7 linked regions of the Homo sapiens genome follow. The protein of the gene in region 6 interacts with the protein of the main gene of each other region in a pairwise test. Each region holds a gene or a part of one and is shown on either strand. Other genes may lie near its edges.

The links.
Region 1: the proteins of FTCD (region 6) and SPTBN1 interact in a two-hybrid assay, tested with the Homo sapiens proteins (one large-scale study listed by BioGRID and IntAct).
Region 2: the proteins of FTCD (region 6) and DNM1 interact in a two-hybrid assay, tested with the Homo sapiens proteins (one large-scale study listed by BioGRID and IntAct).
Region 3: the proteins of FTCD (region 6) and USP34 interact in a two-hybrid assay, tested with the Homo sapiens proteins (one large-scale study listed by BioGRID and IntAct).
Region 4: the proteins of FTCD (region 6) and DGCR6 interact in a two-hybrid assay, tested with the Homo sapiens proteins (one large-scale study listed by BioGRID and IntAct).
Region 5: the proteins of FTCD (region 6) and RDX interact in a two-hybrid assay, tested with the Homo sapiens proteins (one large-scale study listed by BioGRID and IntAct).
Region 7: the proteins of FTCD (region 6) and GAD2 interact in a two-hybrid assay, tested with the Homo sapiens proteins (one large-scale study listed by BioGRID and IntAct).

Annotation. Positions count from the first base shown.
Region 1 is NC_000002.12:54,641,327-54,644,826, forward strand, and holds part of SPTBN1 (spectrin beta chain, non-erythrocytic 1), read left to right. Parts: intron 1-1,656; coding exon 1,657-1,803; intron 1,804-2,996; coding exon 2,997-3,260; intron 3,261-3,500. UniProt on the Homo sapiens protein: Fodrin, which seems to be involved in secretion, interacts with calmodulin in a calcium-dependent manner and is thus candidate for the calcium-dependent movement of the cytoskeleton at the membrane.
Region 2 is NC_000009.12:128,223,879-128,227,378, forward strand, and holds part of DNM1 (dynamin-1), read left to right. Parts: intron 1-372; coding exon 373-511; intron 512-2,156; coding exon of another isoform or gene 2,157-2,295; intron 2,296-3,500. UniProt on the Homo sapiens protein: Catalyzes the hydrolysis of GTP and utilizes this energy to mediate vesicle scission and participates in many forms of endocytosis, such as clathrin-mediated endocytosis or synaptic vesicle endocytosis as well as rapid endocytosis (RE).
Region 3 is NC_000002.12:61,191,588-61,195,087, forward strand, and holds part of USP34 (ubiquitin carboxyl-terminal hydrolase 34), read right to left. Parts: intron 1,394-3,500; coding exon 1,314-1,393; intron 1-1,313. UniProt on the Homo sapiens protein: Ubiquitin hydrolase that can remove conjugated ubiquitin from AXIN1 and AXIN2, thereby acting as a regulator of Wnt signaling pathway.
Region 4 is NC_000022.11:18,904,936-18,909,119, forward strand, and holds the start of DGCR6 (protein DGCR6), read left to right. Parts: upstream 1-1,384; 5' UTR 1,385-1,439; coding exon 1,440-1,549; intron 1,550-1,629; coding exon 1,630-1,790; intron 1,791-4,184. UniProt on the Homo sapiens protein: May play a role in neural crest cell migration into the third and fourth pharyngeal pouches.
Region 5 is NC_000011.10:110,286,615-110,290,114, reverse strand, and holds part of RDX (radixin), read left to right. Parts: intron 1-2,907; exon of another isoform or gene 2,908-3,115; intron 3,116-3,500. UniProt on the Homo sapiens protein: Probably plays a crucial role in the binding of the barbed end of actin filaments to the plasma membrane.
Region 6 is NC_000021.9:46,149,080-46,152,579, reverse strand, and holds part of FTCD (formimidoyltransferase-cyclodeaminase), read left to right. Parts: exon of another isoform or gene 1-286; intron 287-599; coding exon 600-688; intron 689-820; exon of another isoform or gene 821-842; coding exon 843-1,022; intron 1,023-2,054; coding exon 2,055-2,192; intron 2,193-2,329; coding exon 2,330-2,461; intron 2,462-3,500.
Region 7 is NC_000010.11:26,215,526-26,219,573, reverse strand, and holds the start of GAD2 (glutamate decarboxylase 2), read right to left. Parts: upstream 2,801-4,048; 5' UTR 2,765-2,800; coding exon 2,689-2,764; intron 1,965-2,688; coding exon 1,905-1,964; intron 1,733-1,904; coding exon 1,583-1,732; intron 532-1,582; coding exon 298-531; intron 1-297. UniProt on the Homo sapiens protein: Catalyzes the production of GABA.

The sequences.
Region 1 (3,500 bases), on a different chromosome or scaffold from region 6:
GGTAAGTGGTTATGAATAGCGAAAATATGTGAATGTCCTTGGCACTTTGAATCAATAAATGCCTTCTGTTTTGTGTGTATGTACAGAATACTGGGAAAAATTTTGTCATTAAGTTTTACTTTAACTTCTTTTCCCCTAAGATTGAATAGCCATAGTCTTTCAGATTTTAGCTGCCCAGATAACTGGAACATAGATAATTTTTTCCAAGTAGGAAGTGCGTGCCTTTATTGTCTAATAGATCCATGGTCTTTGATGACAAAGGACTTTATGAGATTTGCTAGTTTTTCCCTCAACAAAGAGTGAAATCAAAAATCTCACTACCTTTTGCTTTTAACCCCCTCCCACCCCCGCCCCCTGCCCCATTCCCTGTGTGGTGAATAGCCTGAGAATAGGGACAGTGCCCAAGAGTTCACCCACTTTCAGAGCCAGAGGGCTCCTGTGACCCACGTCGCTCTCCTTGACATCATTTCCAAAAAACAAATCTCGGGGAGCCTTTCCTGGCAGCAGCCCACAGTGGGAGTGGAAGGGCCTTGGAAGTGTTAATTCTGTAAGTACTTCTACTGGTTTTATGTGTCACTTCTAGATCTTTGTTGGTAGAACCATGAAGGATTTAAGGTGCCAATTTGTTGTGACAATAACTGGTGTAAAAGTGGGCTTCTCACGGTCACTCAGGAGAAGGGACATGGTCCCTTCAGTTGGTTACTTCTGATTCCAGGCTGGCTCTGCATTCTTTTGTGTATCTTCAGCCTGGGCAAACAAAAAGCTCTTCCTAGGTTAGCAAAGCAAATGGGGCGGGAATCAGGACTCTGGCATGGCCCTTACAGGCAGGCAGTAATGAGCCAGGGCCGATTCGGGATGGAAGCCAGCAAAAGTGGGTCTGGGCCTGGCGTTTGGCTGACCCCGGTAAGAGAGCTCCTTTCTCAGGTCTGTCAGCGGCCAGCAGCCTTTGTGCGGCTCTCTAGAGTTCAGATCCAAGCAGACATGTTGGGTCTCAAAATCAAGTCCTGTGAAGTGTTCTTGGTGTGAATGAAAGGTTCTTTAGAGAACTAGAGGCTATAGAAAAAGAGGTGAAGGTGACTCAAACTTGAAGGAAACATTGAAAGGGCATGATTGTTGCCTTAGCCCTACAGTGAGCAAGTTATTTATGCCTTTTTGCATTCCCTTCGATGCACCCACAAAAAGGGGGAGGTAATAAATAAGTAGTTTTTTTTTTTTTTTTTTAATAAAAAGAACTAAGAGAGTAAGAAGGATTGCCAAATGGAGTAAAAGTCAATCATGATTAACATGGTATAGCTGACACAGGTATTTGGAAGAGAAAAAGAGTCATGTCTTGGAGTGGTTAGGGTAGAATTTTAAACACGGGCCTTTTGTGGGGAAAGCCAGTTATGAGTGCCAAACAGTTTGAAAACTGGCTTATAGAGCTTTTGTACTTCTGGAATGAATGTTAGATATAGTTTGGAGCAGAGCTCAGGTACAAGCTCCATCTAATGGACACCTGTCATGACGGGTCAGAGTTGTGAAGTTAAATATTTGGTTGTCTGTCACCATGGAAACGTGTGTAGTATGCATAATATGACATAAACACAACCCTTTCCAGGCGGAAAAAAGGCTGATGTCTAGGATCACAATCTCTGAATCCTTCTGATCTTTCTGTAGCTGTCTCTCTGGATCAATGAGAAGATGCTCACAGCCCAGGACATGTCTTACGATGAAGCCAGAAATCTGCACAGTAAATGGTTGAAGCATCAAGCATTTATGGCAGAACTTGCATCCAACAAAGAATGGCTTGACAAAATCGAGAAGGTGAGTTAAAACATTTGATGTGGCCATGGTGAGAAAACAAACAGGGTAGTAATAAACTCCTTTTTATTTAGCACATTTTCCAGCATATCTGATCTTATCTGTACATTTACGTAAGTTACACAGCCAGTAATAGCTCCCTTTGCACGTACGGGTTCCTGACTTCAACCCATCAAAAGGGAAAAAAGCAGAAACCCAACCAGTTAGTAGAAAATGCTTGATTTATCGTAGAACGAATACTAGGCATTTAGTTTCTGTTGTGCCTCTCATCTGCTGTTGCTGATGGACTGTGAGCTCTCATGCAGGGATTCCACTGTCTTGATCATATTATTTGTGTTGTACTGTGACAGATTGCACATAATTTTAAATATATACATATTTTTTAAAATTGCTTTTTCCTATGAGACTACTGTATACCAGGCGCTATAATAATTACTATGATGTGTTATTCTTGCACAGAGAGATTCTGGGCAGCATAACTGAAGATGAATATGGAGTCCCCCCCTTCCCCCCGACTTCTCTCCTTTTAGACTTTTTATAGTGTTTCAGATTCTTCACGGTTAAAATAATGTGTTGGCAGGGCACGGTGGCTCATGCCTGTAATCCCAGCACTTTGGGAGGCCAAGGCAGATGGATCACTGGAGGCCAGGAGTTTCAGACCAGCTTGGCCAACATGGTGAAACCCCATCTCTATGAAGCATACAAAAATAGCCAGGCCTGGTGGTATGTGCCTGTAATCGCAGCTATTGGGGAGGCTGAGGCACGAGCCCAGGAGGCAGAGGTTGCAGTGAGCTGAGATCACGCCACTGTACTTCAGCCTGGGTGATAGAACGAGACTCTGTCTCAATATAATAACAATAATAATAATAATAATAATAATAATAATGTGTTGTATATCATCTTTGGTCATGGAATGGAGGAGATAAAGTCACGTTATTAGCATTCAGTATTCCGTTGCCCCAGTTGAGACTATTTCAGCATGTAACATTTATTGCTTAATTCCCATGAAACCCTTGTAATGTACACAACCTAGGGGTCGTTGTTGATTTTATTGAGCAGTAACTTCATGTGGAAAGACTGTGTGTATTGAGTGAATGGTTAAATCACAGATCAAATGTCCTAGGTTTGTTTTTCACAGTGACATTTTTTCTGTAGCAAACTTGTTTATTTACAACCATGTTGGTTTTGTTTTCCAGGAAGGAATGCAGCTCATTTCAGAAAAGCCTGAGACGGAAGCTGTGGTGAAGGAGAAACTCACTGGTTTACATAAAATGTGGGAAGTCCTTGAATCCACTACCCAGACAAAGGCCCAGCGGCTCTTTGATGCAAACAAGGCCGAACTTTTCACCCAGAGCTGTGCAGATCTAGACAAATGGCTGCACGGCCTGGAGAGTCAGATTCAGTCTGATGACTATGGCAAAGACCTGACCAGTGTCAATATCCTGCTGAAAAAGCAACAGGCAAGTGGACAAGCCATCATGGACTTGGGTGTATTTCTGTTTTACAGCCATAGTCCTTAGAGTCTTTTCTCACCCACTGCATTATCAGGAGTCCACCTTCCATGGGAAGGCATTTTTAACCCAAAATATTACTTGCTCTAACAGCATCGTAGAACATTTCCAGAATAGAAAGACACTTGTCCAAACTAGAAAGACACAGTATTAGGAGTATTGGGTGTTGGCTGTCTGTGTATGGGATTG
Region 2 (3,500 bases), on a different chromosome or scaffold from region 6:
TCTACTAAAAATACGAAAAAATTAGCCGGGCGTGGTGGCAGGCGCCTGTAGTCCCAGCTACTTGGGAGGCTGAGGCAGGAGAATGGCGTGAACCCGGGAGGCGGAGGTTGCAGTGAGCCAAGATTGCGCCACTGCACTCCAGCCTGGGCGACAGAGCAAGACTCCGTCTCAAAAAAAATAACAACAACAACAAAAAACCCTTCATTAGAACCCCTCCCTCCCATTTTACAACTGGGGACACTGAGGCCCAGAGAGGGGTAGTGGAAGGGCCCCTCAGGCAGAGTTCGTGGGCTTGGGGAGGAGCCTCGGCCTGGCCCTCCTGGCCGGCACTGGCCTGTGACACTCTGCCCTTCTCCCGCTCCGGGCGTTCAGAACGGGGCTGTTTACCCCAGACATGGCCTTTGAGACCATTGTGAAAAAGCAGGTGAAGAAGATCCGAGAACCGTGTCTCAAGTGTGTGGACATGGTTATCTCGGAGCTAATCAGCACCGTTAGACAGTGCACCAAGAAGGTAACCCGGAGGCCCGGGCCAGCCCCCACCGCCTCTGCCCCGCCCTGCACTGCTGCCAGGCGCTCCTTCCCCATGTCCCCCCCTGCCTCCTCGGTAGCATGTACAGACCTCAGCGGGGTGGGGAGGCAGGCCACCACTGAATAGGAGACAATGTGCCTCTGAGAGGGCCTCACCCACCCCTGGCCCCCAGGTCTGGGGACCCAGGGATTGGACATGGGTGAGACGGGGATGATGGCTGGCTGTTTACCCCAAGAGCCCACCAAGAGCTCCCCCAGCTCAGAGAATAGGGCTTGAGGGGACCCTGAGCCCCCTCCCTGTCCTCGGAGGTGTCATCTTTGGGAGCTCCAGGGAGGGGTCTGGGGAAACCTTAGCCTTGGAGACAGGTGAAATGCAGGGCCTTCTCGGGCACTGCTCGGTGGGCCTGGGTGGCCAGAGGGGGTGCAGAGGACCCAGGACTAGCAGGTGCCCTGGCTCCCCGCTGTCCTTCATCCTCCCCATACTCATCTCACCCTCACTCAGGACCCTCACACAGGATGCTCACGTAAGACCCTCACTCAGGGCCTCTCCCTCCCTTCCATCCACATCTGGCTTTCCAGGGATAGAGCCCTTCTCCCATCTGCCCCACCATCCAAGCCTCACAGAAGCACGCAGGGAGGCAGGACAGGGAGGACGGTGCCCATTTCACAGCACGAACACTGAAGCTCCAGGAGATCAAGTGGCTTGCCCAAGTCACAGTAGTCAGGAGGTGGCAGAGCTGTTACTTGAAGCCACGGCTCTGGACTCCAAGTCCAGTGCTCCTCGATTCCACCCTCCAGCCTCCCTTCCTTTCCTCTCCCCACTGCTGTCCCGGCCCCTCTCTATCACTACCTCTACTCTTTCTGTCTTTCCTCTTCTCTTTCTGTCTTTTGGTTCCACCAAACCCCTGTGGAGGAGAGGCCAGGAATGCCCCTTGAAGAGAAAGGGAGGGGCGGGACTAGAGCAGGGAGCTGGAGAGGGAGGTCAGGCTGCTATACTGCAACCCTAGGAGGCAGCCTCTGCGCCACGGTTTACGGGAATGGACCCCCCTGGAGTTGTGCAGTGCATGGCCTGGGCAGCTGGATGCGGCAACCCTAGAGATAGGGAATGGTACTGAGGTTTGGAGTCAGGATGAAGCAAATTCTGGGACACTGGGAAACGTAGAATTGAACAGGATGGGTGGATGAGGTCCTGGCCTTGTCCTGGCCTGGGTCAGCTCCTTAGGAGAACCCAAGGCTGTGGACAAAGACGGCACTGGGAGAGAGCAGGCAGCCTCAGTGAGGCCGAGGAGCAGGGGAGCATCCCTGGGAAGAGGATCTGAACTCAATAGGGGTCTTGTACGGAGCAGGGGCTTGGTCCCTCGTACCTCTGGCCATACCTATGGAGCCCAGGGGATGCTTGGCAGCACCTGGGAGGTGCCAACCCCGGGTGGCAAGGGAGGGCCGGTCCCACGCTCACATTGTCTTCTGTTCTCTCTCTCTCTTTATCTGTGTCGATGTCTCTCTCTCTTCCCCCGTGCCCGTGCCATCCTCTCCACCCCTGGATTCCTGTCTCTGCTTGGCTTTCACCCACTTCTCCTCCCCACCCACGGCTGCTCCTCCTCCTGTCCCCACCTCCTCCCCGGGTGCAGGACGGGCCTCTTCACACCTGACCTCGCTTTTGAAGCCACAGTGAAAAAGCAGGTGCAGAAGCTCAAAGAGCCCAGTATCAAGTGTGTGGATATGGTAGTCAGTGAGCTCACAGCCACCATCAGAAAGTGTAGCGAAAAGGTATGACGGCCGCCTGGGCGGGGCTGGGCCTGGCCGTCCATTCCTTGTGGCCACAGCCTCCCGTGGGCAGAAGGATCTGCTGAGCCGGCCTCACGGCTACCCGCAGGGACCCAGCCCTAGTGTTTCCTGCCAGTTTCTAACCCTGGGTACTTGCACTCATGACCCCTCCAGGCCCCCATCCCAGAAGACTTGACTCCAACCCAAGCCTCCTTGGTGGCACCTATGCTAGTGATGAAGATGATGTTAAGGAGATGGCAGCTGTTTACTGAGCACCTACTATGTGCCAAGCACACGCTAAGTGCTTGCCCTTACTATCTGACTCAGTCCTCTCAACCACCCTAAGACGTGGGTAGTGTTGTTATTCCCATTTTGCAGATGGCAAAACAGAGTCTCAGAAAAGAGAAGCAGAGTGTGATTCAGTTTTAGGAAGGACAGAGGAAGGGGTCTGAGGTCAGGGCCTCCTGGGCAGGGGGAGCTGTCCTAGTTCCTCAAAACCAATTTGCCTGAAAGCATATTGGATTACTCACTTTACAGTAATCCGTGCGTGAGAGACAGGGGCGGTCTCTTTTGAGTTGTCTGTGACTTTTTAGATGCCTTTTTCCTATTTGTCTGCTTTTGGGCATTTTGAGGATTTTTAGCCAGGTTGTCTAAAGCAGTTCTTCCCAGGGGAGTGCGAGAGAATCAGTTGCCTGCAGGAGCTTCTCCAGCAGGCTAAATCAGAGGTGCCAGGGGTGAGCCCAGCCTCACCTATATCTGAAGGACTTCCCTATGCTGGTGGGTGGAGGCACATCCACCTTAGCATTGAGTTTCAAATAAGCATCAATCATCTCCATTCCTTTTTTTTTTTTTTTTTTTTTTTGAGATGGAATCTTGCTCTGTCGCCCAGGCTGGAGTGCAGTGGCACCATCTTGGCTCACTGCAACCTCTGCCTCCTGGGTTCAAGTATTCTCCTGCCTCAGCCTCCCGGGTGGCTGGGATTACTAGCATGTACCACCACACCTGGCTAATTTTTGTATTTTTAGTAGAGATGGGGTTTTGCCACGTTGGCCAGGCTGGTCTTGAACCCCTGACCGGAGGTGATCCACCTGCCTCGGCCTCCCAAAGTGCTAGGATTACAAACATGAGCCACCGCGCATTCTTTTTTACTGAGCAGTGTGTTGTGTAATCCTTGTATGTTGCTACATAAAGATTGGTCTCATGCCTTT
Region 3 (3,500 bases), on a different chromosome or scaffold from region 6:
GGCTGCTTCTATAGCACTGGAAGCTTTGGAGGCCTTATATGGTTAGGCTTTGTTTTAAGGGAAATTTGGGGGCACAGTGAGTTCTGTCTGTGAAAGAAGTCAAGCGAAGGGAGTCCTGCGATGCAGAAGTAGAGAAAGCAATAGGGAGCAATAGGTAGTGGGAGAGTACAGAAACCAAGAAACTACCCAAATCAGGAAGAATGAAAAAGAACAGCAGTAGCAGTGGAGAGGGAAAACGAGATCTCCAATTGACTGAACAGAACACTCAGCTCAAAAATCAACTGATAAAAGTCATTTTCTGAATGCCTACTGTATGCTAAGTCAAGTGAGCTAAGATCAGTGTATACTAGCCTCTGAAAGATTTCTACTGTAGAGAACAACGTGGCATTTCTTCAGGGGATGGAGATGACTCTGATAAGGTCTCTACACTTGAGTTCTGTTTTGGAAAAGTAGAGAAACCACCAGTAGAGTACAGGATGGCAAACATCTAGGAGAATCCAGAGCACACTACAGCCTGGTAGGAGGCTGAACCAGACTCAAAATACTTCAGGAAAGCATGATGTGGGTCAAGGGTTGCACCTAAGGAAGGTGAATAAATTCATCTCTTCCAATGGGGTAGAGCAGATGCAACCAGGCAGTACAATCAACAGTTTTTTCAGGGACTGAAAGGTAGTGGGGATCCTTTATGCCTGATCCAAGGAATGAGCCAAACATTAGTACCTCCTCCTCTTCCCAATTCTGCCTTTGTAACTTAACAAGCATTATTTATGCAGCCACTTAATTTTAAGGAGTTGGCTCTTAGACACTTAAGGTAGGAACAGTAATCTTTCCTGTTTTCAAGGAGATCGCTGTAAGAAAACAAGTGCATCAGACCCCTGAAAAACTACAGATTATGAAAAGCTAAAGGACAGACTGCTGACAGGGTTTCTGCTAGAGGTTTTGGAATGGTGGAAAAGAGGTAGAGACAGGGAGGTGAAGGAGAGGAAGAAGTGGCAAGTGCCTTTTCCCCCACTATCTCCCTGTTTTGGATTTTCCCCACAACTGTTGATATACATCTATAAATGAGAAATTCAATTATAACCAGCTTATTTAAAATATCCTCTATGATAGAAATCTACTTAAGTTAAAAAAATCAAAGGGAAACTAGATGCCTAATATGTAATAGCTAGTATTTTCATTCATTCATATGTTACCTATCAAGATTCTAAAATGTCCCCACTTTTCAGCAAGTCTTCAACCCACTGTTCCTAAAATTATTGACCACTTGGTCAGATAAGATTAAAGACCAATCATCTAAAACTCATTTTCTTTACCTGAGTCTGGCATAGCTCAGTCCAAAGTTTGGGGAACAGTGCAAGATGAAGTGGCAAACCTTCATAGGCAACTAGGACACCTAATATTTGAAAAGAAATCAGAATAGGTTATAATTATAAATTATACTAGTGAGATACTCAACTCTGCAGGTACAATATTACAGCTATTTCTAGTCATAACTGCATATTTTCTATATTTTAAAGTACATAAAGGGGAAAAATTCATTCCAATGTTTAGTGAAATATCTTAGAATGTGGTACTTTGAATTTATTTATATCCTATACCTCATTCCTGAAGGATATGGGACTTAAATCAACTCTTCTTTTTTGAGTATTAGAACTTTATCTGGGAAAAGAAAAAGTTACTGCAAGTGGCTCCAAATCTTTCTTGGATTAAGGTACCACTCTGCCTATTAGATAATTTTCATAGGGTGGCTAGACTGCAGGAGGGAGGAGGGGAAAGGTAAAAAAAAAAAAAAAAAAAAAAAAGTGGAGAATTAAACATATCTTTCCTCTTTTACCTTCTTTCTTCAAAGATAGAATGACCTTTGTGGTACATTTAAGTAAATGCGGCCCTTAACACCAGTTTCTTGGCTTGTTCCCAGGATCTTCTGAGTGGACCGCATCTGGCACTATGTCAGAGAGTGCTATTTGGAACCTCTATGAATTTACTTCTCCACTTCTTGACTATTCCAGATGTAAAATATGTCACTAAGATGTGTGCCCCTATCCTCTGTCATCCTATCTCTGAAAGTACAGAAGCTTCATTACCACAGTCCTAAATGAATTTCCCATCTTCCACATCCCCTAGGGTCCCCAGGGCAAGTATAATCATGGAGAAGAAGAAATATAACACAGACCATCCTCTTCCAGTTAAGAAAAGACTGAGTTAGACAAGGAGTCAGCAAACTTGTTCTGGGAAGGGCCAAATAGTGTTTGAGGCTTTGTGGCCATGCTCTGTTAACACAGCTCAACCCTGCTGAGGCAGTGTGAAGGCAGCCTTAGACAAGAGTAAGGAAATGGGTGTGGCTGTCTTTCAGTAAAACTTTACAAACACTGAAATGGGAATCTCATAATTTTCATGTCAGAAAATATTCTATATTAAAAAAAAATTTAAAAATATGAAAACTATTCTTAGCTAGCAGGTAGCCATGGTTATACAAAAACAGGCAGCATGTGGGTTGTAATTTGCCAAACCGTGGGTTAGACCAAGGACTTGAGAACATCCTACACAGGCAAGTCAGGTCACTCACTCAGAACTTACCAAGGATGCCTAGGATCCCTTCCACAGGTAAGCCAATTTATTTTCCTGTCAAGATGAGTCCCTTTAGACACAAGAGGCAAGGAAATGCTACTTCCCCTTTATCCTAACCTAATCTGGTTGGTGTTTGGCAGCATATACCCACCACGGTATCACCACACACATAGGTAAACAAGGACATGTCATCACATCTGTGGCTATAGGGAAGAGAGTTCCTACGTTCCCATGTTCCTGTATCCTAATTACTCATCAAAGTAGAGGAAGGGTTAGCAAACTATGGCCCTCAGGCCAAATCTGACCCATGGCCTGTTTTTATATGGACTTGTGAGCTAAGAATGGCTTTTTCTTTGAGACAGACAGTGTCTTCACTCTGTTGCCCAGGTTGGAGTGCAGTGGCGTGATCACAGATCAGGGGCAGCCTTGAACCGCTGTGCTCAAGTGATCCTTACACCTTAGCCTCCGTAGTAGCTAAGACTGCAGGCTGGGACAATTTTCTTAAAAAAATATTTTGGGGCCAGGCGCAGTGGCTCATGCCTGTAATCCCAACACTTTGGGAGGCCAAGGTGGGCGGATCACCTGAGGTCAGGAATTCGCAACCAGCCTGACCAACATGGAGAAACCGTCTCTAGTAAAAATACAAAACTAGCAGGGCGTGGTGGCACATCCCTGTAATCCCAGCTACTTGGGAGGCTGACGCAGGAGAATTGCTTGAACGCGGCAGGCGGAGGTTGCGGTGAGCCGAGATCGTGCCATTGCACTCCAGCCTGGACAACAAGAGTGAAACTCTGTCAAAAAAAAAAAAAAAAAAAGTTTTGGGCCAGGTATGGTGACTCACGCTGGTAATCCCGGCACTTTGGGAGGCCGAGGCAGGAGAATAATGAAACCCCGTCTCTACTAAAAATACAAAAATTGGCTGGGTGTGGTGG
Region 4 (4,184 bases), on a different chromosome or scaffold from region 6:
CTGGCAGCCGAGGCAGAGAGGGAGAGGAGACAGAGAGAAAGATAGCTTATGCCATTATTTCTGCATATCAGAGACTTTTAGTACTTTCACTAATTGACTACTGCTAGCTAGAAGGCAGAGCCAGGTGTACAGGATGACTAGGCATAATAAAGGCAGACTAGGAGCGGGACCACTGAAGCACAGCATCACAGGGAGATGGTTAGGCCTCCGGATAACTGCAGGCAAGCCTGACTCATGTCAGGCCCTCCACAAGAGGTGGAGGAGCGGAGTCTTCTCTAAACTCCCCCGGGGAAAAGGAGCCTCCCTTTCCCGGTCTGCTAAGTAGCAGGTGTTGTTCCTTGACACTTTTCACTACCGCTAGACCACGGCCCACCTGGCAACGGGCATCTTCCCAGACGCTGGCGTCACCGCTAGACCAAGGAGCCCTTCTGGTGGCCCTGTCTGGGCATAACAGAAGGCTCGCACTCTTGTCTTCTGGTCACCCCTCACTGTGTCCCCTTAGCTCCTATCTCTGTATGGCCTGGTTTTTCCTAGGTTATGATTATAGAGTGAGGATTATTATAATACTGGAATAAAGAGTAATTGCTACCAACTAATGATTATTGATATTCATATATAATCATATCTAAGATCTATATCTGGTATAACTATTCTTGTTTTATATTTTATTATACTGGAACAGCTCGTGTCCTCGGTCTCTTGCCTCAGCGCCTGGGTGGCTTGCCGCCCACACCAGCCACCAGAAGCTCCCCAGCCCCGGCCCAGCAGCTGGTCTGGGGAGCGGGGAGAGGGCAGTCTGGGCTCGCGGTTCCGGCTGGGGGCTGGGCACCCCGGGGCGACCACGGCAGGCCCAGATGGGGACTCCGGTTCCAACTCTCCTGGCCCAGAGGCTCTAGGGTGGTCTTGTCTGTCTCACTCCGGGGGCAGAGAGGACGCAGACAGACCCCAACACCACTGCTCGGCCGCGATGGTGCCTTAGACCCAGGTCCTGTGGGCTCTGGCCCGAGACCCCTCCCTCTGGGAAGGCCGGTGACCGGGACAGTCCACCTCGCAGGCGCGCCGGCGCGGAGCCCGGACCTCAGCCCGCAATGACTCAGCAAGGGCCGGTGGGATTCTACATGGTCCTGCGATATCCAGGCGACGGAGTCTCGCCTCTAAAGTGGCCCGGGGAGCAGGAAGGTATGAGCCTCAGCTGAGCGAAACCCTCCTTGCAGCCACCACGGAGGGACGGGGCGCGTCTCCTTCTGAATGACGCAAGGGGCGGGGCGCGTGGTGGGGCGGGGAAGGCGCGAGGCGCGCCGCGATCGGGGACTGTCCTAAGACGGGCGGGGCGCGCTGCGCTAGGGACTGTCATAAAAGGGGCGGGACGCGCCGCGGTCGGGATGACGTGAGCTGGGGGCGCTCGTCGCTGCAGCCGGCGGCTAGCGGGCGTCCGCGCCATGGAGCGCTACGCGGGCGCCTTGGAGGAGGTGGCGGACGGTGCCCGGCAGCAGGAGCGACACTACCAGCTGCTGTCGGCGTTACAGAGCCTGGTGAAGGAGTTGCCCAGGTACGCGGGCGGGGCGGGCGGCGGCCTGCCGAGGCCGCATCGTGTCCCGCCGGGGCTCACCGCGCTCCTCTACCCCGCAGCTCATTCCAGCAGCGCTTGTCCTACACCACGCTGAGCGACCTGGCCCTGGCGCTTCTCGACGGCACCGTGTTCGAAATCGTGCAGGGGCTACTGGAGATCCAGCACCTCACCGAAAAGAGCCTGTACAACCAGCGCCTGCGCCTACAGAACGAGCATCGAGGTGCGCGGGGGCAGCGGGAGGAGGTGCCGCCTCCTCGGGGTCGGCGCCTCCCGGCAGCTCTTGGTATCTGTGCAGCTCGGCTCCTTCCTTGGGAGTGTTCGGAAGAGGTCCCTAAGATTAACAAAATCAAGGGCGCAGAGACTGAGACAGCGCCTTTTTGGTGACCAATGTGTCCAACGAGTTTTGTTTTCAGTTGCGCAGCACCCACCTTCTTAGCAGAAACTCCCTGTTCGGGCTTCCCTGTGCCCCACCCCCTTCCAGGCCTGATGGCCCTAGGCCTCCGTGCTTGGTTGGCCGGCAGGCTGACTCTGGTGGTAGATCTGACTGCGTTGCCCTCCGGTAATTGGAGTTCTGTTGACAGGTGAGCAGCGCCCTTGGGTAGTTGGAGGTCTGTTGACAGCTGTGCGCGCCCTTCAGGGTCAGTTCCCTCTCAGGCCTGCAGGGCCTCATTCTAGTTGCACATCAAATTCCTAAGCACTGTCTCCTGTGGCGCCCTCCCAAACCAGAAGAGCTTCCCACTTGAGCCGCATGCTTCCTGGGCTTCGGAGCCCTTTCCTGCAAATTATATAGGGCAGGTCCCCCTGCACCATCAGATTTCCACCTTTGCTGTTTTATTTTTCCCAAACTTCTTATTTTAAAAGTTCAAACATTTGGAAAAACTGAAAAGACAGTGTAGTGCATACGCTTGTGCTCTCCACCGAAAGTTCAGTAGTTAACATTTTGCTCTAGTTCTTGACATCCCAAAATACATACATGTGACAGCATAGAATTCACCAAGAGTCTTCAGCATTCCTGGAGACCAGGATTTTCAACCCAGCCATGCTGACATTTGTGGCTGGGTAAGTCTTTATGGTGAGATGCTGTCTTGCGCATTGCAGGATGGCAGGGGTACCCTCCCTAGTCGTGAAAACCAAGAATGCCTCCAGACAACCTGGGTGGTGGGGTCAACCTTGGCCTTGGATTGGGAGCAAGTGCTCTAGAACAAGAGCGGTCTCCTACACAGCTGCAGAGGGTAGCCCCCTGAGAAATTAACTGTTCCAGGTGTCTCCTGACTTTCAGTGCATGGCCACATCATGGTACCTAACTTGTGGCAAATTGTTGCTTTATAAGTAAGGATCCAGTCCAAGTTCATGTACTACAATTGGTTACTTTGGTCTCTTTGCTTCTGGAACAGTCCCCAACATTTATTGTGGCATTGACTTTTTATAGAGTCTAATTCTATAATTAGAATGCCCTGCTCTGGATCTATCAGAGGAAATGCTTCCTCGTGCATTTAACCTGCTTCTCCACTCTCTGGGTTTACTGTACACTGGACTCCTGGTAGGAGCCTGATTAGAGGCAGGTTTAATGTGGCAAAAATTCCTCCTAGCGGGGCAAGGCCCCCTTCCCCAGAAGGCAGGCAGTGTCCATCTGCTCCAGGATTGGTGTGTTTCTATCAAGAATGGATGTTGGATTTTGGCAGTTTCCTTTTTGGCAGCTCTTGAGATGATCACGTGGTGAATCATTTTCTATTACTACAGTGAATTACAGTCACTTGAATTCCATCCTACTGGGTCGTGCTGTAGTATCCTTTTTATGTATGCTGGATTTGATTTGCTAAAATCTTGTTAAGAATTTTTTTGTCTATGTTCATGATAAACTGTGGTCTATAGTTTTCATGTAATACCTGGTTTGGGTATCAGGGTTTTTGCCAGCCTTATAGGATGAGTTTCGAAGTGTTCTCTCCTCTTCAGTTTTCCAGAAGAGTTTGTGTAGAATTGGCATTACTTCTTCCCCTAAATGTCTGGGTGACTGTCTTTTTAAAAATTTTATTGAGCTGTAAGATGCATGCAGTTTACTAATCCCAAGTGCATGGCTCATTATTCCTTAATGCTCAGACTGTGCCATGTGTGGCCAGTTGGGGGCGCTCCAGGCACCTTTAGATGCCGCCCCATCATTCTGTGAGCACTTTCTTGCTTTCTGGTTCAGGTATGTGTTCAGGCTCATCTTTTCTTGTTTTCTCCGTGTCTCAGTCCTGGAATCGGCCATTTTTCCACAGAGTTGTAGTTCTTTCTAGCAGGATGGGGAGTTTCAGTAACTGCCTGGGCCCAATGCTGTTTGTGCTTCAGAAGGTTTGGGCCAGGTCCTGGTTCCACCAGCAGCAGGCATGCCTGCGTTGACTTTCTGCTTCTCCTGCTGATTTGGCAGGGGTGACTGGCTGCTCCTGCCTCCTTTGTGTTCCCGGTCGTGTCTAAGGCCAGGCCCCTTCTGCCCAGGCAGCCGGCGTGGCTCTCTTCTTGCCTTTTGGTTGCATATCTAGTGGAATCTCGTAGTGGACCTGGCACTTGTAGCAATGTTTGATCAGTAGAGTGAAGATGATGACATTTCCCTGCTTCCCTGTGTTATGGAGCTGTC
Region 5 (3,500 bases), on a different chromosome or scaffold from region 6:
TCCTGTTGTTTTTGTAAATTGACTGATAATCTTTTAATAAGTTAACCAGAGTGGGTATTTTTGTTTATAACAAAAAATCCTGGTGAGTACATGGAATAATGTGGATGCATTAATGCAACGTAAGGACCCTTGTTTTTTTTTTTTTTTTTTTTTTTTTTGAGACAGTCTCACTTTGTCACCCAGGCTGGAGTGCAGTGGCATGATCTCAGCTCATTGCAGCCTCTGCCTCCTGGATTCATGCAATTCACCTGCCTCAGCGTCCCGAGTAGTTGGGACTACAGATGCACACCACCAAACAGGTCACCACGTCTGACTAATTTTTATATTTTTAGTAGAGACGGGACTAATTTTTATATTTTTAGTAGAGACGGAGTTTCGCCGTGTTGGCTAGGCTGGTCTTGAACTCCTGACCTCAAGTGATTCACCCGCCTTGGCTTCCCAAAGTGCCGAGATTTCTGGTGTGAGCCACCGCCCCCAGTCAACATAAGGACTCTGAGTGAAAGGGAGAATGGGAACATAGAAAATCTCAGCTGTGGTTAATTGACTTTAGATCCCTTTGGCTTGGATTAAATTTTCTTAGCCATTGTGAGGACTCCTGATACTTAAGCTGTTTATAGGTTCTAGACTTAGAAAAACTATAAAAACTTAGTTTGGCTATTCAGCAAAGTTAGTATATATCACCAGAAAGCTTACTGCTAATATCTAATCAACAAGCAGCATGGTAATTACAGTTATCATTAAGTGTGTCAAATTATCTGGCCTTTAATTTGATTGTCAACTTAATTGAAATTATTAAAACAGTTTTGGATAGAGATGGTTAAGGCTTGAATTTGGGAGGCCTAGTTGTAAAAAGTTTTTTTTTTTTTTTTTTTTTTTGAGATAGAGTTTTGCTCTTGTTGCCGAGGCTGGAGTGCAATGGCGCGATCTTGGCTCACCACAACCTCGGCCTCCCAGGTTCAAGTGATTCTCCTGCCTCAGCTTCTCAAGTAGCTGGGATTACAGGCATGCGCCACCACGCTCGGCTAATTTTTTATTTTTGGTAGAGATGGGGGTTTCTCCATGTTGGTCAGGCTGGTCTCGAACTCCCAACCTCAGGTGATCCGCTCACCTGGGCCTCCCACAGTGCTGGGATTGCAGGTGTGAGCCACCACGCCCAGCTGTAAGGAGCTTTTTTTGTTCCCCATGTTCATGTTGGTTCTCTCTTCTTAGTGATGCTTATTAGTTTGGTCATTTTACAACATAAAAAAAGAGAGGAAACTATTGCCCTTGACACTAATCAACAGAAAAATTAAAACTAGTATTATGTGTAAGATTAATTCACCAACAAAATCAACAGACATTTTGAGGCCCAACTGTGAACCAGGCATTGTATCAGTTTTTCAAAAAAGGGAGTTAATATCTAGAAAATTAGAAGCTTAATTTTTTTATAGCAATAGAACTGCCATATAGCCTCGTTGACTGTGTTAGAGAATATTGTCTAATTATAAAGACATTTAAGAAACATACTGACTTTGTTCTGTTTTGAAAATAAGCTATAATATCTGATGTTTCAAAGCACATTAAGGGTAGAATTATTTGTGAGAATTATTTTGTGTTTGCTTCTTTCCTGTTATATAAGTGACTTGCATGAACCTGTTTTCCCATTTCTAAACATTTTTATGTGAATGTTTAATGTTTTCTTAAGAGTGAAATGAGGAAGTTGAACTGGATTTAGCTTTCTTACCTTTTAGTATTTAATAATTGCAAATGATAGTGTATTATTTTGTTTTCTGCTCACCTTAGGAACAATACAGGTATGATTTTCCTTTTTAAATTTACAAAACTCTTAGAAGAGATCCTAAACTCAGTGTAAAACTTTGGTGTTAATATTGCAGTTCAGCTTTATAAATTTTAGAAATTTGCTTTGCATTTTCAGTAACATGTATATTACTCAAACGTTGAATATTTCATTTCCTTGAAAATATCATTAAACCAGAAATCATTTCTACATGAGCAAGACTTAATATCTTATTTAAAACTGCCTCTCACCCTTACAGGAAATCCATTTACAGAGATGATCATACCAGTTATTAATGTGCACTTAAAACATCTTTAGAGGTAGTCTCTTGACCTGCTAACAATAGAGAGCTTTAATAGCCTACTTCTTGAAAAGCCCTAGTAATTGTTTCGAATGAACTTGTCTAAAATGGTATCTGAGAAAAGTAGAATAAGATAATCAAAAGAGCCCAAGACTAGGATTTTAAAGGACTTATGTCTTGTTAAGTAGCCCCCTGACATTGAGCAAGTCATTTATCTGAATCTTAATTTCTTTTTTAGAAGAATGAGAGATTGTAACACCTGTCTTGGGCAGGAAGGGGGAGGGCAGTTATTGTGAAGATAGGAAGTGTAGGCAGAGTGGAGAGTGAGCATTCTACAGATGCTCCCTGTATTCACTACCCTTCTTGCTTTTGGCCTTATTTCTTTACTTGCAAAATGGAGCTAAAAATTCTTGTCCTCTTTGCTTCACTTTGGGATGACGGGATGACATGTCATTATTTAGGTAAAAGTGCATTATTATTGCCATAAAATTTATTAACACTGAGCTAACAGCATAATAAGCATAGTTCTTTGTATATTAAAGGTTTTAAACCCGGGGACCTATGACCTTGAATGGGGAAAAAGTTACATCTTTATTTTTACATTTTCTTGTTATGAGTATAGACAACATTAGCATTAGCAGTACAGTACCAGAGACTGTGTCGTCTATTTTTTAATTTAATTTTTATTTTTTATAGAGATGGGATCTCACTCTGTTGCCCAGGCTGGAGTGCAGTGGCACCATCACTCCTGGGTTCAAGTGACCCTTTAGAATAGCTGGGACTACAGGTGCACATCACTACACACAGCTAATTTTTTTATTTTTTGTAGATTGCCCAGACTGGTTTTGAACTCCCGGCCCCAAGCCATCTTCCTGCCTTGGTCTCCCAAAGTGTTGAGATTACAGGCATGAGCCACCATAACCAGCCCAGAGACTGTTTCTAATAGAAACGGTAGATACTTTTGGAATACATTAAAGCTGTCTCGAAATAACTTAACTGTTACTTAAAGTATTAAAAAAGCATATATATTACTCAAGGTTTGTGTTTTTTATATTTTGATAATCATATTCCAGTGTAATTGGTTTCTTTTGTAATTTTCTGTATTGTGTGCATGTATTTTATGCATTTAAAAATACTTTTCTTAGAAAGAGTTCATAGGCTTCACCAGCAGGGCCCATGCAGGAAAAATAAAATGATTAAGAACTTCTTTAGTAGATTCCATTATTGTGTTGATTGGACTGCCAGAGTTGCCTTATTCAGTTTATACTGTTCTTTGTTGTGCAGCTTTCTCCCAGTAAATTGGCAGATGAGTTCTCTTGGAATATTTTGGTTTCTGGAGAGACCACAATTATGTTCAGAGGTCATTTCTAAGTCCGAAAAGGCAGAAAAAAATTTAAAATAATTAAAATTAGGCTTAGGGAA
Region 6 (3,500 bases):
ACAAACGGGACAAAGTGCATACCCACCCCTAGGCTGCACCAACCCAGCGCTCCTGGAAAGAAATCCCGAGGCAGGGACGTAGGTCACAGTCACGCCAGCGTGCAGGGCACACGTAACCCCCGTCACGGTCACGCCGGCATGCAGGGCACACGTAACCCCCGTCACGGTCATGCCAGTCCCCCCGAAGGAAATCCCGACGCAGGGCCCACGTCACAGTCACACTGGTGTGCGGGTTCACGAGTTTTTCCTCTTCTCTGCCGTTATATTTATGTGGTTGCTTGCGGTTCTGTTTATCATACAAAGAAAACAGAAGCATGAACGTCCTGCCGTTAGCATGTCCCACATGTTCCATCCTAACCCTGCAATTCGCCTTTTCAGGGCCCTCTGAGGAGGGGGTGGGCAGGGGTGCTGGCCCACACTGAGGGTCCACTGGGACCACCCGCATCCATCCAAGGCGGAGAACGGGCACTCCCCAGGAGAGGGTGCAGTAGAGGCCCATTCCTGGGTTAGGCTGGAGGGAGCCCCTCCACCTGCGTCCTCCAGGAACTGAGTCCTGGACCCCCTGCCGGTCCAGGCCTGACCGCCGGGCTCTCCTGCAGTTTACCTGTACGGCGAGGCAGCCAGGATGGACAGTCGCCGGACCCTGCCGGCCATCCGGGCCGGGGAGTACGAGGCCCTCCCTAAGAAGGTGCCCCCACCCCGGGCGGTCGGGCCTGGGAAGGAGGTGGACCTGCCCCTTTGTCCTGGCTGGGGTGGCTGGGCCGGGCCCCTCCTTCCCGGGACCCCGGGGGGCTGTTCCCTCCCGTGGGGGATGTCTCACCCCAGAGCGAACTTGCTCACAGCTCCAGCAGGCCGACTGGGCGCCCGACTTTGGTCCCAGCTCCTTTGTCCCCAGTTGGGGGGCCACGGCCACGGGGGCGAGGAAGTTCCTCATTGCTTTTAACATCAACCTGCTCGGCACAAAGGAGCAAGCCCACCGCATCGCGCTCAACCTGCGGGAGCAGGGCCGCGGGAAGGACCAGGTGACCCCGTTCACTGACCCCATGGAGCCCCACCCAGCCCCTCGGGAAAGGGTTAGAGGCTGAGAGCCTCAGGCGGGGAGGTCGGTGGGGATGGGGCACCGGCCGGACAGGGTTCGGCCTCCCACCTGCAGACCGGCCCAGCCTCCGCGTCCACACCGTGCGGGGACCGCGCAGGTCGGCAGGTCAGGGGCGGAGTGAAGCTGGGGAGCTCTGGCCTCCTGGGGATTTTCCAGGGAACGAGGCAGGACTTCCCTTTGTTAACATGTGGCAGCATTTCCATACTGCTGGGAAACAGCGACTTCCGGAGTCCCAGGTGCCCTCAGGGGCCCCCCATATCCCTCCAGATGCCTTGGGAGCCCCGACACCCCTACAAACCTTCAGGTGCCCCCAGGCCTTTCCCTCCACGTCTGCACAGCAGTGGTCACCCGGTCTGAGCGTCACTCCGGGTATAGATACCCGGAGAAAGCGGGGGGGACCACCTGCCCATCTGTTCCCCACTCAGAGACCCCGGTCCCACAAACAGCCAAGGTCCTGGGACCCGGCTTCCCGACCTGCAGACTCAGCACAAAAGCACAGGGACCTCTAAGTCCTGCTTTAGGCCCCGGCCAAGGGCAGAGGTCAGAGTCCCCCCACGTGGACTCAGTCACCCCGACAAGTGCGGGGCTGAGGGGACTTGTCGGGAGCGGAGCAGATGGGATGGGAGAACGGCATGGGGGTGCCTGGGGCCCCACCCCTCAGCATTCCCCCAACATCTAGGACACAGCGTGGCTGGAAGGCAGGGCCTAGGCTGGGCGGGGGCCTGCCGGGGTGGGCCTCCGGTGTCTGACCCTTGGGGCCTCCGTTTCCCTGTGGCAAGCGAAGTTTCTCTGGCCCTCCCCGGCCAGCTCAGTGAGGGACGGAGGAGAACCACAGCACCCACCCAGGCACAGGCTCCTCCCCGTCCAGCTGGGGAATGCAAGTGCCAGGAGAGACTGGCAGGGCCAGGCAGGATGAGCTTCCTAGTCCAGGCTGGGGAACGCTCTTCCTTTGCAGCCAGGACGTCTGAAGAAAGTTCAGGGCATTGGCTGGTACCTGGATGAGAAGAACCTGGCTCAGGTGTCCACCAATCTTCTGGACTTTGAGGTCACGGCACTGCACACGGTCTACGAGGAGACCTGCCGAGAAGCACAGGTGAGCCCGGGAGCAGCCGCTGCTGCTGTGAGGGGCGAGCCGATCTGTCCCGTGGGCAGGGCGGGGGCCCCACATCCTCCAGCCAGGGCCATTCTCCAGCCAGCCCCCAGGGGGTGACGCTGCCTGTGCCTTGGCAGGAGCTGAGCCTCCCAGTGGTGGGCTCACAGCTGGTGGGCCTGGTGCCCCTGAAGGCTCTGCTGGATGCGGCCGCCTTCTACTGCGAGAAGGAGAACCTCTTCATCCTGGAGGAGGAGCAGCGGATCAGGCTGGTGGGCCGGGCTGCCGAGGAAGGGTCGGACAGGGGCGTGCAGGGAGGGTGGGGAGGCGGTGGCGGAGCTCACAGCCCTGGGGCGCAGCTTCCCTCCCCCTCCTCCCCCTTCATTTTATTGACTTGTGTTCAGAAGATGAGATTTCACTTTTTATTTTGGACACCTTATTGAGGTTTTTTTGTGACCTATGATATGCTCAGCTGTGCAAATTCCACGGAGAGGACACCCCACCCTTTCTGCTTGGTCTTGCCTCCTGGGCCGGCCATGCTCCCGTGGAGGGGCCTGTGCCTCCTCTCACCACCTCCATCGGGGCGTCCTGCACCCCTGGAACTGGCAGCTCATGGATGTGTGTGCCTTTAGCTATGGGACTTAGATCCCCATCCACGGAGCGGCTCCTTCAGAAAGTGATTCCTTTTGTCTTGTGGACACCTGGGCCTCAAGGCTTCTGGAGTCTGGGTTCCACCGGGGCCTCAGGTCCTGCTGGGGTGTGGCAGCGTCTGCAGAGCCGCTGTCCGCCTTGGTCTGTCCTTTCACTCGAGGTCACTGCAGAGCCGCTGTCCGCCTTGGTCTGTCCTTTCACTCAAGGTCACTTTGTTTTAGGTGTGTTTTTCGCAATAAGCACAATCCACTTAACTGGATTTTTTGGGGACGTTTTGTCTGTTTGTGTTTTTACTGATTTAGCTCTCGTGACTTGTGGATTCCGTCCTTGTTTAGTCTCGGGCATATTTTCTTCTATTAGATCGCTGACCCAGTTATTTAGTTCTCTAGCTGTAGGACCCCGTGATGCTGCAGCAGCTTTGATGTCTTCTCTGCCTCCGTCTTTACTTTCTCTTCCACTCCTTTCCTCTGGATTCACAGTGGTTTTCCAAAACCCAGCCTCAATCATTGGTGCGTTTGTGGCCTTGTCTGTTGTATTCTTGGCTGTTAACAAAATTTTTTGTGACTTTACATTTTGTATAATTTCTTACAGAGAAGATACAGGTGGCCCTCCACTCCTGCCTCCCACCCATATTTTCCAAGTGCTTGCATTTTGCCCCAT
Region 7 (4,048 bases), on a different chromosome or scaffold from region 6:
AATATTTGCTTCTATACCAGTGGTATAACCTCCGTGTCCAAATACATGCAACGTAAAATCTGATGATTTACACTTAAATCATGTTTCTGACATTATCAACTTCAGAAGCATGAACAATAGCAGTGGAAGGTGCTTTGGATTAGAATCATTCTAATAATGACTATTTTTTACATGATGAAAATAACTTTGCAATTTTGAAAATATCAGTAACTCCATCAAACAAAACATTTTATAGAAAAAAATAAAATAAAAATTGTAAACGAAAAAAGAGCTTTATTATTTTCGATGAGACAATACCTGTTTTAATTGCATATTTTAGAGTTGTTTGGCAATGCATCAAAATTTCCTCCAAATTTTGTGGTTGGTCTGCCAATTCCCAATTATATTCTTGGAGAAGCTCATTAGGATAATGGAAATCAATCACTTTGGTTGATCTATCGAAACTTTTCACCACATACTGAAGTAAAATGTTCATAACATCTTGCAGAAACGCCAAAGTGGGCCTTTCTCCATCACACGCCGGCAGCAGGTCTAAAGAATGAAATTAAAATGCCACATTTTAATTTTACTTTGAAAATATTCAAGGCAAGATCTTGATGAGGCAATAACATTTCTTTGAATTGAGAGATTTCATGTTAGATAAAGCTTTTGGAAAGGCAGAACATTTTTCTTTAAAAGGGAGACATTTTTCAAAGGTGAAGGGAATGAATGAGATAAATTATGATTTCTTCTCTTCCCCAAATTAATTACTGCATTTCAATTCATAACTTATATTGTTTGCCTTCTTTTTTTGAAGAGCGTGTACCTCCGTTTATCTAGTTCACAGGAGTTCGTCTTAAACGTGTTTCTCAGTAAACCATCTTACATGTTTACATAAATATTTCACGTCAGAAGTGTTTGTCTCGAATGCCTTCGGGCAAACCAAAGTGGAACAGGTGCATTAGGATCTCTGGTCTGATAGGAAGGCCCGCTGTTTCTAAAGTCAGTGTGTGTGTGTGTGTGTGTGTGTGTGTGTGTGTGTGAGAGAGAGAGAGAGAGCGTATGCATGTGTGTCTGCATGTGTGTGTGCGCGCGTACATTTGGGAGACGGTGTGTAAGTGCACGGGGGTAAAACTCGGCGCGCGGGTTTCATGTGAATGGAATCGTTCTCTTGTGCAATTGCAGCTACAAATCACTCTCGTGATCTAAAGACCTAAAAAAAATGCAATTCTGAATTCTCGGGCACGGTATTTGGAAACTGAGTCCCACCCGAGGCCCCAGCGGCCTAGGGAAGCCAGCCGTCATCGATTCAGTGAGCGCACGAGCGCCTGGATCGTCGGCCACCCGCCATCCCAAGGGCCGCGCTGGGGGAAGAGCGCCACGGCCTCAGAGCCCTCTTGGAGCTCCGAGGCCAGGTTCGGGGGCTTGGACCCAGCGGGCAGGTCCCGCATTTCTCGCTTTTATCTGAAGATTCTGGCAGGTCCCGCCTCCGCTGCCACCTCGACGCCCCTGTCCGGCTCTCAGCGCCGGACCCGCACCGGCCGCGGTGGGCGGGGCAGAGAGAGGGGCAGGGGCGCCCCGGGGCTCCCCGCTGAGTCTTTACCTGTTGCATGGAGAAACGCGTAGTTGACATCCACTTTGGAGCAGCTGCAGGGCTTCTGGTCGCAGGCGCAGGCGGCCTTCCGGGCGGCGGCCCGCGGGGGTTGGCTCCCGCCGCTCTCCGCCGGCTTCTCGGCGTCTCCGTAGAGCAGGGCTGGGTAAGGACACCGAACGCGGGCCTCGTCAATCCTCCGCCGGGCCCGGCTCCCTCGCTCCCGCCTACCCGCAGCCAGGAAACCCCGACTCCGCTGACTGGGATGCGGAGGTGAGAAGACTGCTTGGACCCCGCGGGCCGACCTTGGCCGCCCCGGTCCCTGGGCACTCACCGCACAGTTTGTTTCCGATGCCGCCCGTGAACTTCTGAGCCACTTGGCACCAGGCTCGCGCTGCAAGGAAGAATAGGCAGGCAGACAGCGAGGCAGAAAGAGAACAACAGACGGACGTGTGAAATTTCGTTCTATGTGAAAATCAATCAGTCCGGGGTCCTAGGAGGGGCCGCCTTCCTCCTGGGGGCCGCTCAGGACTCGGTGAGGCCGGCAGGTGCAGAAGGCAAGCGGGAGGCTGGCGGCCCGGGCCAGCCCTCATTTCCTTTATCTGTTTCCCGAGGAGAAGCCCACACCGCTGCCCTTCCAGGTGCCAATCGGCTCAGGCAAATTCCTCTCCCTGCCTACCTTGGACGAGTTTTCCTAAACACTGAAGCTATCCATTTTTTCGCAGACTGTCTTTCTAGATAAAGAAATCTCTCACCTTTCCCATTTTTTTTTTCTATCTTCACGGTCACTCCGTCCCACCCCAGGGTCCAGACACCCGGATCTTAGCAGCGCCCCAGGACCACGGAATTCCATGTCCCCGAGACACCGCGGTCTTTGGGGGGCTCTTCCAACCTTCTGTGGAACGGGCCTGAGACTATTTGGGCGTCTTCCCAGGGTACAAGAGGCTGTAGAGGTCTTGAGCTCTTGGGCCGTCAAGGACTTAGCCCAAAAGCAGGGAGAAGCGCCCGAAGAAGTTTCCTGTTGCAGGTGGAAAAACCTCCTTCGTCTTCTCCGTAGTTCCGCAAACCCCAGACCACCGCAAAACTCGCCCGCCGCAGGCCCCCGTTCTCCTTCCTACCTGTGCCGGGATTCTCGGAATCCCCAGAGCCATCTTCCGACCCGAAAGACCAAAAGCCAGAGCCCGGAGATGCCATCGGCTTTGGAGACTGGAGCAGGTCGCCTGCGAGTGCGAGCTGCGGGCGAGCTGCCTCGGGCTTGGCCCTGCGCGCGCGTGCGTGCCCGTGTGGCGGGAGGAGGGCACCGCGCGGGGACCGGCGGGGCCGAGCGGCGAGGGCGGGTGTCACGCAGGAACAGAAAACGTGCGTGTCTGTGCGTGTGTGTATGCGAGCTGGAGACAGGGTTTAGGGACGTGGCAACCCTTTGGAAGCCGGGGAGCTTTAAAAGAGACCGGGACTACCTAAGGGTCCTCGGAGCCCGGACTCAGGAAAGCGCGGAGAGCCCCAGAGCATTTGAGGGAAAGGGAGCCCAGTGGGGATGAATGAGGGGGCGGCGGAGGAAAAAAACACGAGAGAGGGAGGGAGCTGAGTCGTGAGGATGCGAGGCAGACCATGCACGCCAGCTGGAGTCAGAGTGAGGGGGTGGGAGGCGTGCCAGCGCGTCCTCGGGCGAGCCAGAGGCGGGAAGTGCGGGCGGCCGCTGTCCCGGGTGCTGCCACAGCCGCTGCGCGCCAGCGTCAGCGAGGGGCAGACTGGGGAGACCTCGGCGAGGCGGGAAGCGTGGCCCAGAGGAGTTTTCTGTGTGCATCGATTGGGGTTTTGTTTGAGGTCTGGCTCCAGCTGAGGGGAAGGAAGCGGGGTTCCCGCGCCGTTTTCCTCCAAGCAGGTGCTGAGGTCACTGCGACCTCGAGAGCTCGCGCCCCGGGCGGGCATCAGGCGCCGTTCACGAGCCTGGGGAGGGGACGGCGGGGGAAGGGCTCCTACCCGCTGATGGGCTCATTTCAGCGCCTTGGTAGAACCTGACGCCTGCCTGCTGAACCGCGCCGTACCCGGGGGCGCACCGTTCCTGCGTAGCCAAGGGCTAGATCGCGGGACCCACCGTCCAGGCTCTGAGTGACGGCTGGGGAGAATGACTGCTGATTGAGGCAATTAAAATCCACGCTGGAGTCTACTGAGGACCTCGGGCTGGGGAAAAAAAAATAAAACGAATGGAAACTTCTTGGAAGAGAATGAGGCAGAGCGGCCAGAGTCGGCAGGATTGATGGCGGGTGGGGGATGGAATCAGGGCATTTGGTGACCTTGGCCCGCGGAGGCGTGGAAGCGCCCGCTGCTTGCGTGTAAGGGGGATCTGTGTGCGCCTGGGAGGGGAGAACAGGGTTTCCAACTAAGCAATCTCGGCTTTACAAATCCGAGTAGGAAAGAAGGCATCGCCTGCAGGGCCCTCGTTTTAAGGGGCTTCAAACCAATGCCCCCCCTCGCCCC